Regions from separate parts of the Homo sapiens genome. Here region 1 is linked to region 2. A link means that fine-mapping ties the variant in region 2 to the expression of a gene that starts in the linked region. Tissue or cell type: fibroblasts. Region 2 holds a variant in brackets; the other region holds the start of a gene. All regions are shown on one strand. Distances are from middle to middle.

Region 1 (8,105 bases), 120 kb after region 2:
AAATAAATGGGTTCATGGCTAGCTGAAATGAAGGGCTTATCAATCATGAGGAGAAAATTCAATTAGCCTTTAAATGCCACCCATGCATAGTTTCTCTCTCACCTACCTGTTATTAAAGTTCAAGTTTGAAAATTATACCAGAAAGATTCCATTCATAAGCTCATAAGTCATCTACATTTTTTATGATCAATCATTTCACATGTTCTAATTTTTACTTTTAAATGTCTACTAAATGTAGGGGAAGTACTCTAGGAAATAGAACCGGAGCAGTTAACTTTACTTTGAAGAACATTGTGAAATACTTTAAAAGACTTGTGAGGGGTGGGGAACATCAATAACAGGCACTGGACACTAAGAAACAAGAAAGAGTGATAGGAACAGATTGTATTTGAAAGACATCAAAAGGTCCCCATGGTATCTTGTAAGATTATTATGTAAATAATGTGAAAAATCCCAAGAAATAAACTAACAAAAATTCCAAAGACAATACCTTTATCTGCATCATAGGACCCTTGCTCACTTCCATTTTCTACAATTCTTCCAGGAAGGGTTAATCTGCAGATTTAACACAGGTCTCATGAAGTCCTTAAATTATAACGTAACATAAGTGGCCATCAATACTTGCAAACATTTAACCATCAAAATATATCAATCATTTTTTAAGAAGTTCCTCAGTATTTCTTTCACATTTTAATAAACTAAGTTAGATTCTTTCCCCAACCAAGAAAGTAGAAATTAGAGATGACTCATCTTTCTATTTGAATACCCCTAGTCACCAACAAAATAGATACTGAAAAAGAAAAGCCATAATAAATAGTAGTTATCACTATTGTTATAACACAAGTTGAGTATCCCTAATCTGAAAATCTGAAATGCTCCAAAATCTGAAACTTTTTGAGCACCAACATGACACCACAAAGTGGAAAACTCCACACTTGACCTCATGTGATGAGTCACAGTCAAAAAGCAGTCAAAACTTGGCTGCATACACAAAAGTATTAAAAAATTACATAAAACTATCTTCTGGCTATATGTATAAGGTGTATATAAAACAAATAAATTTTGTGTTTAAACTTGAGTTCCATCCTCAAGATATCTCATTATGTATGCAAAAATATTCCAAAACTCTAGAAAATCTGAAATTTCATATAAGGGACACTCAATCTGTACAGATAAGGGATACTCAATGGGAAACAATAAAGAAACACAAAACCAATTGATTTTATCAGGCAAATTACTACTTTAAAAAAAAAGCAGAAAGCAAAAGTGTCAAATCTCATCATTATTATGTAGGGATTTACCCCTCTTTTGTACTAAAAGAAATGAAGTGATTGGCTGGGCGTGGTGGCTTACGCCTGTAATCCTAGCACTTTGGGAGGCCGAGGTGGGTCGATCACCTTAGGTCAGGAGTTCAAGACCAACATGGCCAAAATGGAGAAACCCTATATCTACTAAAAATACAAAATTAGCCAGGCATAGTGGTGCACACCTGTAACCCCAGCCAGTCAGGAGGCTGAGGCAGAAGAATCACTTGAACCCAGGAAGGGGAGGTTGCAGTGAGCCGAGATCATTTGCCACTGCACTCCAGCCTGGGCAACAGAGTGAGATTCTGTGTCCAAAAAAAAAAAAAGAAAAAAGAAATGAAGTGATTTCCCTGCTTCCAGTTTTACCCTAGTTCAATCAGTCTTCCACTGAGGCTCCAAAATAATTTTTCTAAAACAGGAATCTAATTGTCACTTTTCTATTTTAAAAAGTGTCTATGGCTGCCTCATGTTGCCTAGATAATTTAAACTTATCAGAAGGGCATATCAGGCCCACTCCATATCATTCCAAACTTGAAATTTGAGCTTCCTTTCTTCCCATGGCCCTCCCCCTTGTTTCCTACTAAATATGATTAAAAACAAAAACAGCTGACAGTCCCAAAAGGCCCAGGACCTTTAATCCCAAGGTTTCCTCAAGCTTCAATACATTTTCAGAATGAAAATCCCTCTAAGCCAGAATAAGGGGTCAGTTTATGGATGAGTTTGTTATAATGGTTACAAACGCTAACTTTAGTGTCAGAATCTGAATTAACTCCTAGATCTGCCATTTACCAGATGTGTAACAACCTTCTTTGTACAAGTTAATTATTCTTCAAGAATCATAAATCCCTCTTCTGTAAAGGGGGGAAATAACAGTAACTATCCAAGCGTTACTATGAGCATGAAATGATAATGCAAAGAGCTTAGTGGCCGGCACAACAGGTGAGCATTCAGAAAATGTGAGCTATTATTACCAGCTCCCTTCCCCTAAACTCTATAAGCCTAGAGTTAAATTCTTACTGCAGAGAAAATTATATTTGCTTACATGGGGCCTCCGCAGCTACAGTCTCCATTCTTCAAGGAGAGGGACCAGGTTTTATTCATCCTTGGTATAGCAAACTGTATGTTCTTTTTTTTTTTTTTTTTAGACAGTCTCGCTCTGTTACTCAGGCTGGAGTGCGATAGCGCAATCTTGGCTCACTGCAACCTTCGCCCCCCAGGTTCAAGCGATTCTCTCACCTCAAGCTTCCCAAGTAGCTAGGACTACAAGCGCGTGCCATCAAGCCCAGATAATTTTTTTGTATTTTTAGTACAGATGGGGTTTAACCATGTTGGTCAGGCCGGTCTCAAACTCCTGACCTCAAGTGATCTGCCCACCTCGGCATCCCAAAGTGCTGGGATTACAGGAGTGAGCCACCACATCTGGGGGCAAACTGTATTATCAAAGAATGCCCATCTCACAGCACTCTTCCCAACCATGAAGGTCTATGTTCCCTCCCCTTAAAATTCAGCAGGCTCTGGGACTGTTTTGATGAATACAATAAAGCAGAAGTGACACAGGAATTAGACCTTTAACATATGAATTTGGGGACAAGAGTTGGGGGGGTGCCCACAAATAATCCATCCACGGCAACGGGTAAATAATAAAGCCTCGTTGTAACACTGTCCTAATAACAAATGAGATAATCCGTATAAAGCACTAACCTGGAGTAAAAATTCAATAAATATTTGCTACCACCATAATCTTCTTCCTATTCTTCACATCTTGGCTTAAATATCGCCTCCCCAGAAAGGCTTTTCCTGACCACTTTATAAAACATGGGCCCTTTTTCATTCTCTATTAGTGCACTTCTTTCTCCTCATAGCACTCACCACAATTAAGTACACTGTTTATTGTTTTCCTCTCCCCAGTGAAAAGTACATGAGGGCAGGACTTTGTCTTGTTCAGCACAATAATACCAACACTGAAACTCAATAAATAAATTAAAGAAATAAGTGAATTAAAAAACTGGAAAGTGCAATAATTCAAATACGGACGTTATATGGTCTAAGGGAAATCTGAGCAAAACTGGTTCAGCAACAGTGAAAAAACCACCTTGACTGGTGGAGAAGGTTTGTACCACAAAAGTACTTGGGTGGGAAAAGTAGGATGCAGCTACACTTCAGAAAGATTAGGAGGATGGATAAAGAGAAGGACAAGAGATTGGCAATACTTTAGGATGAATATGTAGCAGCGGGTTCTGTGGAATGGGGTTAATAGCAGTGCTTATCCCTAAGGATCACCGTCAAAGTTAAATGAGATACACCATCATAAAGCACTTAACGGAACTGCTTGTCCACCACACTACGAGTTATCAGTGTTAGCTGCTACCAAGGTTACGATTCTGCAAGGAGAATAATTTAAACAGATCAAGTGCTGACAGACCCTCACGGAGACTTGGGGGAAACAACCACACTTCAGGGACAAAACCAAACAGAAGAGCAGCAGACAGCAGGGAAGCAGGAGAACTAGGCTAATTTGGTGTCAAGAGGTCCAAAAAAGGTAAGAATTTCGGTAAGTAGGGAGCGGACAGACAAGAGATAGATCAACAGAAGGCGGCCTGGGCAAAGTTAAAAGGACCGACGGGTTGGGAAGTCACGGAGATGTCAGCGCGCGCCGTTCCCAGGAAGGGAGAGACTGGGAGAGCAAACGCGGAGTGAAAGGAAAGAACAGAACAAGTCAGAACGGGACGAGAACTAGGGCGACAGGGCAGAAACGGGAAAGTGACACGGTCCAAACGTCACTTTTTCAAGTGATTCCGCAATCCTTTGATATGGGATTTAAGAAAGCTCAAGAAGGAAAAGGGCTTCCGCAGCATCTAAAACGCACCCCTGGAAGAGGGCAGTTCCCTGGCACCAAGAGAAGCTGCGGAAACGTCGGGAAAAGGCATTCGCGCAATCGAGCACTGCTCTCTCGACCTTGCATTCTCCCTCTAAAGCAGCTATCTAACGAATGCGCCTTTCCTGCGGCCAGGCACCCCGAACTCGCCTGAGAAAGTATGGCTTGGCGTAGAACTTGAAGTCAGACCCCTCGAAGTAGACGTCGAACTCGGAGACCCGGGCGTAGGGCACGCGGATGGCGATAGTCAGGAAGTCCGGATCCTGGCTGAGGTCGAACGCCGGGGTCAGCATCGCCGCACCGGACGCAAGGGCCGGCGCCGCTCGCTCTCACTGCCGCCGCGTTCCCGCCACGCAAACTCTCCAACTCCCCACGCGCAGGAACTCTCGGTGTGAGGGACGGAGCTTCCGGCTCGAGGCGGAAGTGCTCGCGCGTAAGGCAGGAAGTCTCTCCCCACGCCAATCTCCATGGAGACGGGACGCCGTTCGAGAAGAGGCGGAACTTTCAAAACCCCCGGGCGGAGAAAGGGCGTGGCGAGTGGTGCCTGGGAGCCGGCGTTGAACCGGCGGGATGACTAGCAACCGAGCCTTTTTCGAGGTTCTTAGAGATGATTTTAACAGCACTGGCTTGACAGGTAAACAGACGTGCGTTTGAATCCCTTCCTGGCCACAACTTCTCAGCTGTAAGACCTTGGGAAAGTTACAAAACCTCTCTATATCTTCTGTAAAACGCGGATAATGCGAGAACCTAGCCCCATAGAAATGCTGTGAGGGTAGCATGAAATTGTGCATGTAGAACTCTAATAACGAACTTGGCAAGTTGTCAACGCTTGATGTGCTGAAGTAGTCACCGCAGTAGCCACAGCAGCACCGTTACAGTGGTTTCCCTTAGTTCTCACCTGCCTTGTGAACAATTCCTCTTACACTTTCCCTTTCCTCCCTCTCTCTTTCCACTTCTCTTTTTCTGCAGCTTTCTCTCTCATTCTTAACGGCTTATTTGAAGAGTTTTCTCTTTAACAGAGCGTCCGTCCCGCTAATCTCATCTAATCTACGCTGCAAACTCTAAAGAAAACGGCTCAGAGAGGTTAATCAGTACGTTTTATAACCATGCATTTTACAGTAATTAGAACTCAGAACGTTTGACTCTTAAACCGTGTCGGTGACTGCATTCACAAATTAAGGTCCCTCTGTATTCCCCTTCTTTCCTTTTTCTCACTCTTGTCCTTACACTTGTCTGAGGACATCTTTTCTGTCTTTTTTTCTACTTGTCTTCCTTGTATTTTCTCCCTTTGGAGTGTGCCCCTTACACTCTCTCAGTGCCTCTCCCGCTGGTTTCCCTCTTCCCCCACATATTCCCTTGGCCTTTCCACACATGTTGTTTCCTGTTATTCCACCACTAATTAGAATAATCCAGTTGTGGTATTTATTCCGTGGTTTTAAGTATCAGTGGAAAAGGGATGAAAAGTACTCTCCTAGGACAGTGGAGATAACCAGAAAACTTCAAAAGTCTTTTCAATCTCCAGCTGTTTTATGATTCTAAGGAGACATTCTTGAAACTTCATTAGGACTCAGAAAAAAAATTAATAGTAACAGGGGCTAACATTAACTGAATATTTACTATGTGCCAGCACTGCAGCAAACCCTTTGTAATGATCTCATTCTCCCTCCTGACCGCTCTATGAAGTAGGCATTATATATTCCCTTGGCTTGCACAGGATCTCACAGCTAGTAAGTGGTGCAATGGGAATTGAAACCCAGGTGAGTCTGATTCCTAGGCCCAGGCTCTACACTATTACAGAGTTGACTCCCTCTGTTATTACCACCTACTTTGTTTCACATTCTAAAGCCAAGCCTGCCTGCTTTAGACCATACTGAGCCTTACAAGTAATAGGCACTCAATATTGACAATGAATTGATGCCAACTTTGATTTAATAAAGCTCTCAAAAGGTCCCTTGAGATAGGCCTGTGACTAAACTATTCCAAATTAGCTTCTTTACAAAGAATCTTGGCCGGGAGCGGTGGCTCACACCTGTAATCCCACCACTTTGGGAGGCCGAGGGGGTGGATCACCTGAGGTCAGGAGTTCGAGACTAGCCTGGCCAAGATGGTGAAACTCCGTCTCTACTAAAAATACAAAAATTAGCCAGGCATGGTGGTGTGTGCCTATAATCCCAGCTACTCAGGAGGCTGAGGCAGGAGAATCCCTTGAACCCAGGAGGCGGAAGTTGCAGTAAGCCGAGATTGTGCCATTTCACTCCAGCCTGGGTGACAAGAGTGAAACTCCATCTCAAAAAAAAAAAAAAGAAATAATCTTTACATCTGCCATGGGACCTCATTCCTGTAGGTCACAAGCATTAATATTTTTAAATTATTAATGCCAGAGAATCAACTGAAACAAGCTATGCTATCCATGAGGAAATTCTAATTGAAAGCACTTTGCAAACTAGAGCTGTGCATTTCCTGGGTACTTTATTATGTGTCTGGCAACACACACACACACAGGACTGCAACACAGGAAAACAGACAACATGGTTCAGTGCTGCCGTCATTATAAGAAATATATACTGCATCTGCTAAATCACAAAATACGGATAGTTTCAAGTATATAACAAGGTTTTGTTGTTTTGGGTTTCTGTTGGTTTTTGTTTTCTTGCAGGCAATAGTTCTCTTATTTTTGCATTTCTATTAGTGGTAAATATAAGTTATAGATTCATTCTCACTTAAGAACATAAAGTTCCTTTTGGCTGCCATGCAACTTTGGTTCTTTCTCCTGCTTCCTCAAAGGCAGTCCTAGCTATCACTTCAGACCCTTTTCTATTTCTACATCCATTTCTATGGACCCTGTTGCTTTGTGTTTAGACCCACTTTATATGGGCACATTCTCACACTATGAAAGTAATTCTGCAACATGCTTTTTTTCCTACTTTGGTTCATTTTTGAGACATAGCTATATTGATTCATAGATCAAATTGAGTTTCTATTTCTGAATACAGACATTGCTTGAGAATAAAGACATTATTTTAATGTTTTAAATTAGCTCTGGTTTAGAGGGGAAAACAGGAATGCAATTTTTCATCATTTTTGAGCATTCAAATGTTGCAGTGTTTTTTATCTTTTCATTTTCTGAAAGCTTACTTTTGAATGGCCTTCCACTGTTTTAAAAATAGTTTTTCCTTCTGGCCTATAGAGAACATGAAATAAAATAATAAGATAAAGTTTTTTCCATGACCAACTTATGTAGGACAAGTGTGTAACCTATCATCTTTCATTATATTAAATTGGCCCCTCCTCTGGTCTAACAACCCTGATTGTGATCCATAAGCTTCCAAATTAAATGTTAAATTAAAAATGGTTTTTATAAACAATTCCAATGTCAGCTTTATTACCAAGTTCTATTGTTAGAAGTCTTTTAATGGTGAAATACTCCTTGTTTCCAGAAGGTGGCATGCATATAGGTGATTAAAACAATGTTATCTCAAAGAATGGAGCTTTAACCTATGTTGAAAAATAGCTTCCTGAATAAGTTGTTTATAGCGCTAGTTCATTCTCTGAGCCATTTTGGGGAGGTGGTGGAATCTTACACAGTATTTGCAAACTACGTCTTAACCACTGTTATTATTTTGGCATACATCTTTTCAGACTCCTATTCATAAAAGTATGGGAAGTATTTTCAACAAAAGAATGTCATAATCTATATTTGCTTTCTTCACTTAATATAGGATTACAGGCTGGGCACGGTCGCCCATGCCTGTAATCCCAGCACTTTGGGAGGCCTAGGCGGGTGGATCACTTGAGGTCAAGAATTTGAGACTGCTGTGGCCAACATGGGAAAACTTTGTTTCTACTAAAAATACAAAAAAATTAGCCAGGTGTGGTGGCACCACCTGTAATCCCAGCTACTCGGAAGGCTGTGAGGCAAAAGAATC
Region 2 (8,105 bases):
CCCACTCCACACCCCTCTCCCCAGTCCTGTAGGTAAACCCTGAGTTTTTTACCACGGCACTGAGGTCTCCAAGAGCCAATGAGGTCATCGAAAGAAAACATAATGAGCATGACTTTGGTTCCCCCTCAAACACACCCTGCCTACCCTTGCACTGAAATTTAATAATGTCCCCTCTACTTTCAGAATTCACCAGGAGGGACTCCCCACACATTGTGAAAAACTTAATCATCTCAGAAATCTAAATTCAACTGTTGCTGAATGAGTCATTTATTGTATTTCTTAGTCCCCTTCCACATAGAAACCTAAAGAATGTCCTCTCAGCTTTCATGGAAGAAAATGCTTCTCTCTCCTCGTGATCTGCTGTGCCTTATTTTATTAGCCAATCAGAACTCAGATGCTTATTCGTTGTTTTCTTTCTTTCCTTTTTTTTCTTTTTTTTAAAGCTTTGGCTACCACAAAGCTCAGAGCTAAATTCTGAGCTTGCTTCTAGGTACATTCATTCTTTAGTTTCTGGTTTTCTGGCAACTTAGATCCTTTGTTTACTCTTCCCTCATTCCCCTCTTTGAGAATTATTTCTCCCTGCCCAGAGCCCCATCCTTACTTTTTTTTTTTTTTTTTTTTTGAGACAACATCTCACTCCGTCACACAGGCTGGAGTGCAGTGGCATGATCTCGGCTCTCTGCAAGCTTCGCCTCCTGGGTTCAAGTGATTCTCCTGCCTCAGCCTCCCGAGTAGCTGGGACTACAGGCGCCTGCCACCACACTCGGCTAATTTTTATATTTTTATTAGAGAAGGGGTTTCACCACGTTGGCCAGGCTGGTCTCGAACTCCTGATCTCACGTGATCCGCCCACCTCGGACTCCCAAAGTGCTGGCATTGAAGGCCTGAGCCACCGTGCCCAGCCCCCATCCTTACTTAAGAACAACTAGGAGGTGGAGTGTGACTCAATTCCACCCTGGCCATAGCTGATTGGTCCAGGAGTGGACTCCTGGCTCAAGCCAGTTCCTGAGTCCTTACCTGAGGCGTGTTGGCACTGAGAGATGAGTCACCCTTGAGATGCCAGACTACAGAAGTCAATTTCACAAATTTCAGGAGTAGTCGGCAGCTGTGTTCCACAACATGGACTGGGTCACAAACAGTATAAAGAAAACCGGCAATGGGGATGGAGAAATCGCCCTCCCAGTTTCAAGCCCAGCTCTGTTCCTCCCCCTGGCTTCCCTGAGACACTGTTGCTGTTCTTTAATATATCCCTCCTTTTGTTTAAGCTACCTTGAGTTGGGTTTCTAAACTTGTTTTTTTTTTTGAGACGGCGTCTCACTCTGTTGCCCAGGCTGGAGTGCAGTGGCGCGATCTCGGCTCACTGCAAGCTCCGCCTCCCGGGTTCACGCCATTCTCCTGCCTCAGCCTCCCGAGTAGCTGGGACTACAGGCGCTTACCACCATGCCCAGCTAATTTTTTTTGTATTTTTAGTAGAGACAGGGTTTCACCTTGTTAGCCAGGATGGTTTCGGTCTCCTGACCTCGTGATCCGCCCGCCTTGGCCTCCCAAAGTGCTGGGATTACAGGCGTGAGCCACCGCACCCAGCTGGGTTTCTAAACTTTTTAACTGGTAACGGAAACTATGTTGTTTGCTGTTTGAAGTCCTCAAAAAACCGGGTGCGGTGGCTCACGCCTGTAATCCCAGCATGGTGGGAGGCCAAGGTGGGCGGATTGCTTGACTTCAGGAGTTCAAGACCAGCCTGGGCAACATAGCAAAAAGCCATCTCTACAAAAAATACAAAAATTGGCAGAGCAAGATGGCATGCACCTGTGTTCTCAGTTACTCAGGAGGCTAAGGTGGAAGGATTAGTTGCACCCAGGGAGGTCGAGGCGGTAGTGAGCCGTGATGGTACCACTGCCCTCTAGCCTGGTGGCAGAGCAAGACCTCTGTCTCAAGTAAATACATAAATAAATCCTCAAAAATAAAAATTGAACACTGCACCACGCACACTCAGGCTTTATTCAGCCTCTCCAAACTGGCCTCTGCACTCTCTTCCCTCATTCTCCTCCAGCATGGCAGCCTCCTTGCTATCCTCCTGATTCTCTGAGCTCCCATGCAGCCCAGGGCCTTTGCACTTGCTGCTCGCTCTGTGGAAAGTTCTCATCCTGGGGCCTCACAGGGCTGCTTCTTTCTTGTCCCCTCATCTCCTCAGAGAGGCCTTTCCCAACCGCACATCCTGGAGTTGCCCCCACCCCACTCCTCCGTTTCACTTCGTCCTGCTCATTTTCTTCACCATCTTTATCACTCTGAAATTATCTTAATGACTTGCTTGTTTACCTATGCCAGGTGTACACGCACACACTCAAATCTAACCTCTATGAAGTCACAGCTGTAAGCCCAGCCACGAGCACAGTGCCTGGGACACCGGAGGTACTCAGTAGATGCTTGTTGAATGAATAAATGTTCTTTGCAGTACAGAGTCCAAGTAATACCTCAGGTGTCAACCTCACATGGTTCTTGAGTTCCTCAGTATTTGTTTTACTGCTCTTTGTCTGTCCTGGCTGTTAGACTCCCCAGAGCCTTTCTGGAATGGGCAGAAGAAAAAAATAAGAGAATTTACTTAACAAATACTATGTACTAGGTATGTTTCTAAGCACTTTACGCATATTATTTAACCCTCCCAACAATCGTGTGAGGGCTAATAACGTAATATGATAGCTGGGTGGGGTGATGCAGCTATAGTCCCAGCTACTCAGGAGGCCAAGGCAGGAGGATTGCTTGAGCCCCAGAGTTTGAGACCAGCCTGAGAAAAACATTAAGATCCAGTCTCTACCAAAAAGAAATGTAGTACTATTATCACCATATGTTACAGATAAAGAAACTGAGGCACCAGGAGTGAAGTCACTGTTCCAAGGCCACCAGCCTATAAAGGCATAGCAAAGACTCCCGCCCAGGGAGTCAGATTTTAAGCCTGGGCCTGTGACCTCTCAGCCAGGCCGCCTCCCAGGCAAGTGGGAAAAGCACGTCCTCACTTCTTGGGCAGGGCAGTAAGATATGTATCTCTCATGCTTACGTTAGGCCCTTTCTTTTTTTTTTGGAGACAGAGACCAGCTCTGTCGCCCAGGTTGAGATCAGCAATGGCGTGATCTTGGCTCACTGCAACCTCTGCCTCCCAGGCTCAAGCAATTCTCCTGCCTCAGCCTCTGGAGTAGCTGAGATTACAGGTGCATGCCACCACGTCAGCTAATTTTTGTATTTTTAGTAGCAACGGGGTTTTGCCATGTTGGCCAGGCTGGTCTCGAACTCCTGACCTCAGGTGATCTGCCCACCTCTGCCTCCCAAAGTGCTGGGATTAC[A/C]GGTGTGAGCCACCACGCCGGGCCACATTTGGGCTTTTGGGCTGAATACAGGAAAGCGGTGCTCATTCCAGCACAAGCTCAGGGCGAAGCTCATCTGATGAGGACCATGACAGATTGCAGTGAGACACCTCGGGATGATTGAGGGCTTTCTCTAATCACACCAATTGATATCAATTACTGCGTCGGCCCCCTGAGAGCATCCCTGGGATTTCCACCTCATTAGATCATTGGTGCCAAATGAAGCAACAGGGTTCTGCGCCTCCTTCGGAGCTATTTGTGTTATAGGCAAAAATCGTAAAGGGTAACTGGAAAGGCACATCAGAAAGCCTCCAAGGAGCAGCAGCAGTCTAGTCAGAGGAACAGAGACTAAAACAGTCACAATTTAGTGCTGGAGGTTTCTGATTTCAGTCAACTCTTGACATCTCTGCCAAACTCCTGCTCCAGTTCTTACTGAAGTCTGCTATGTAGCCCCAGAACAAGCAAAACCATGGAACCAGGGGGTCCACGAAGGGCCATGGAGGCGGGGCTGTGAGTTCTGGGGCTTGGGGATTCAGCAATAGCAAGAATTCAGCTTTGTTGGGGACAATGCCAAGGGGGGTTTGAGGCTCCCCGTAGTTTCCACCCGTCACCCCCAATCAGTAAACCATACACAAACATGGCTTCAAAGCAGCCCCACCCCATGCGGCTGCCCCCTCCCAAGCCTCACCACCCAACCTCGTGCAGTTCCAAGGCAGCCACTCCTGCTCTTGCCAAACAACCCTCCGGAGGTCTACAGGATAAAAACAGGAAGGCAAGAAGCCAGGACACGTGGATTTCCTTATTGGCTTCTAAAGACAAAGGGGAGGAAGAGAAAGAGGCAGAAAGTGAAGAGAAGCCAAAGGAAATGGCCACACATCAGAGCTAGGAACAGATCCCAGACTTGATTATAAAGTCCTGAGGTTTCCTGGGATGGTGTTTGAGCAGAATGCGTTTTTGTTTTGTTTTCAGAAGCGTTTTGTTTTGTTTTCAATCGCAAGTCAGCCTTTGGGAGGGCAACGGTACAGGTGGATGCCTAAATTCATACCTCAGCTAATGAAACAGTGGAGAAGAGGCACAGACAATCTCTTGAGCCTGTTGAATCCAGAAGGACAGAAGTCTTGGTAACGGTGTCAGGCTCACCTTGTGGGTAGTGGGATGGGTGCTGTTGCCATTCTGACCAGATCACCTCCGCTCACACCTGCAACCAACACGGCTCATCAGCACACACATGCCACCCAAGCAGTTCATCAGGCACAACCCTGATCCTTCAGGAGGGCATTACTCTGGCCATGAGAGTGCACTCAGCCTGCGTGAAGAGCAAGCCGTGGAGTCCCTGGAAGCAGCCATCACCAAAGATGGGGCACTGGGATAATTTAGGGGCATGTTCCCTACTGTTCCCCAGGGCTCTCCAGTGGGACTGTGGTCTAGTTGTCCACGATGGCAACACACGGTGAATGCTTTGCTTCCCCTCCCTGTCTTACTTCCCTACTCTCTTACCAGTACTTCCTGGAGTCACCTCCCAAACAAAAGGATTTGCACTGCAATATCTGCCTCGGAGTCTGCTTCCAGGAAAACCCAAAGCAAGGCGGTGCTTTTGTGCAATTTATTAAGAGGAACCCCTCTGGGTTGATGGGGCTTCAGGGGTGCAGAGCCTGGCAAGCAACCCTTTCCTGTCAGTCTGACGAATTCCCACACCACGTACCAACAGGTAGGTGACATGTGGGCTCGATTTCAGCCTCACCTGACTCCTCTGAGGGGCATCTTTGCCCTGCACTAGAGGCCCGAGGCAGCTATAGACACATCCACCACTTCTGTCTTCTTGGCTTTGGACAGAAACAGTTAATCTGAAAGGAGCAACAAGTCTACATCTGAGGCATACCAGAAATTCCACCAACAGACTCTGAACCCTCCTGAAAATTCAGGGAGGGAGAAGAGCATGGAAGCCAACAGTGCAGAGTTTGGGGTGCGGCTGCTCTGAAGTCAAATCTGCCTCTACCACTTCCTTGCCGTGTGACTTGGGGTAAAGTATTTCACCTGTCTGGAGCTTCCATTGCCTCACCTGGAAAAGGGATGCAATTGCTTGAGGCACAAGTTAGGAAGCAAATCAACAGCATAGATGCAGTGCCTGGAGATCAGAAGGTGCCCTTTCAGTGTAAGTCCCTCCTCATTCTTCCCCCAAATGGCCTGAGGGGTTCACTACAGGGCCACGCCCAAGTGGGACCCAGAAGCAGAAGCCTCTGAGGCTCCTTGACGCTCAGAACCAGGTCAGTGCCATGCTGTTGTTGGATTCTCGCTGCTACTGAGAGCCCAGATATAAAATGTTAATGTGCAAGGAAGCCAGCCGACCAGGTGACGGTGACAAACCTCACGTCCCATCTGTTCTTCCCCTCCCTCCACTCCAGGTTGGGCACGAAAAACAACTCCGTGATTCCTCTTTGCTGAGTAAACTGATGCGTGAATGAACAAATAAACCTCTGAGAGATTCCAATGCCAGGGGAGGCCCCGAGCTTTTATCTTGTGACTTGTGTGCCAGGAGCATAAATAGTCACGGTTGCCCCTGGATTCGTTAGTGGCTCCTATTGGGTTTTGAGCCACCCCAGGCTTTCCTCACCTGGAGGTGCTGATTTCAACGTGAGTCACAGGCCTCCGAACTTAAGCACAGACCCTGCTGAGCTGATTATTCCACCCTAGAGAAATCGCCAATGTGACCTGTGAGAATGAAGATTCTTGGAGCCTGGGGCCGCTGCTCGTGCTGCCTCCAGCCTCCTGATCGACCAGTCCAGATAAGGCTGCATTACCCACCAGGAAACACACGCCTATAGCCACAAATTCCAGGTCTTGCAAACACATTGAGGACCAGGAAAAAAATAAAAGGCATTGGCTCGAAATAAAGAAAAAGATGCAAAATTGAAATGAAGAAATGCTTAATTAAATGTCTAAAAAACACTAGGTCCACTTTGTTCATTAAGTTTGTTTTCATTAAAATCTTATTACATCTAAACACAATTTATGGGTTGGTTCCCTCACTTTGTAATAACTCCTGAGTTTGCATGAGAAAGCACAGCCAATAGCATTATACAGTGAAGGAATTACTACTCATAGCCAAGTAAGTTCAAAAGCAAAATTCCACAAATTATTTTTTTATTTTTAATTTTCAAATTAAATTTTATTTTATTTTATTTATTTATTTTTGAGACGGAGTCTCACTGTCGCCCAGGCTGGAGTGCAGTGGCGCGATCTCGTCTCACTGCAGGCTCTGCCCCCCGGGGTTCACGCCATTCTCCTGCCTCGGCCTCCCGAGTAGCTGGGACTACAGGCGCCCGCCACCTCACCAGGCTAATTTTTTGTATTTTTAGTAGAGACGGGGTTTCACCGTGTTAGCCAGGATGGTCTCGATCTCCTGACCTCGTGATCCGCCTGCCTCGGCTTCCCAAAGTGCTGGAATTACAGGCGTGAGCCACCGTGCCCGGCCCTAAATTTTATTTTTTTAGAGACAGGGTCTCACTGTTGCCCAGGCTGGGGCACAGTGATGCAATCATAACTCACTGTAGCCCTGAACTCCTGGGTTCAAGTGATCCTCCCACCTCAGCCTCCCGAGTAGCTGGGACTACAGACATGTGTCACCACACCTGGATAATTTTTTATTTTGTGTAGAGATGGGGTATCACTATGTTGTGCAGGCTGATCTTGAATTCCTGGCCTCAAGTGATCCCCTGCCTCAGCCTCCCAAAGTGCTGAGATTACAGGCATAAGCCACTGTGCCAGGTTTAAAAATTCTTTAAAATGTATTTACATTAACAAACATATGATATAGGTACACTGGATACTTGATATATAATGTGGGAGAGGCTTCTAAAAGGAACCAGAGCCAACGGACATCTTAAAATGCCTCTGCTGTAGGGCCATGTGACTGTTATTGGTTCTTGGGGAACTCTTTACTAGGAAGTCCCTACTTTTCTCTCCTGGAGATGCCGATTTCTCCTGGGAAGTCAGTCACTGGCCACTACAGATACATACAAATAATGCCTATTATTTCAGTGGACGAAAATGGCCCTTTCATCTCTTAGAATTAAGACACTTCATGACCAGCAGTACACACACCTTCATCCAGCCTCTTGTCAATGTCAAATGTGTCAATCTCTCTCTCTCTCTCTCTCTTCCTCCCTTCTTCCTTCCATGTCTGCTTTCTGGTATATGCAATTTCTTTTCCAGAAAGGTTTTCCTCACATAGATACAAAGATAATCATCCTCTGAAAAATGGCTTCCTTCCAGCTTACCAACTCAGAAAAAGTATCATTTCTAGTAGCTCTGGCCAAAGCCCCAAGAGGACTTTGATTGACTAGGCTTGAGACACCTGCTTATTGCTGAACCAATCACTGTGGCCAGAAGAACAGGGTACTCTGATTGGCCAGACCTGAGCCATGGGACCACCCCTGTGGTGGGATTCGGGGTAGTATCAGCCTCATTCCTCTTGTCCCAGCTTTCTGCACAGCCTCCCCCAGGAGGGCATGGAAACCCCAGAAGCCATGGGCCAGGCATCCAAAATGCTACTGGATAGGTATTCACAAACCCCTTCTCTTAAACCAGGGATTGGCAACCTTTTTCTGTAAAGGTCCAGATGGTACAATATTCTAAGTTTTATGGACCAAGGGGCAGAATCAAGGCTATTAGGTAAGTACCTACATAACAAAAGAGAAAAGACATTTCCATAAATTCTTTTCAATCATTAAAAAGTTTTTTTAAAAAATCCTC

The links. PIP is the estimated chance that this variant, and not a neighbour inherited with it, causes the effect.
Region 1: SHQ1 starts here. The variant in region 2 is fine-mapped to the expression of SHQ1 in fibroblasts (GTEx, PIP above 0.99).

What each region holds. Positions count from the first base shown.
Region 1 is chr3:72,843,869-72,851,973 of GRCh38, forward strand. It overlaps SHQ1 (SHQ1, H/ACA ribonucleoprotein assembly factor), which reads right to left and starts at 4,577. Exons shown (of 11, transcript NM_018130.3): 1 at 4,330-4,577; 2 at 491-555. The coding sequence starts at 4,472. RefSeq lists an enhancer at 4,796-4,895.
Region 2 is chr3:72,723,293-72,731,397 of GRCh38, forward strand. It overlaps a transcript of SHQ1 not described here. Among named protein-coding and RNA genes, the nearest start is that of SHQ1, 120 kb to the right of the region's middle. The variant A/C (reference allele first, on the strand shown) is at 3,336.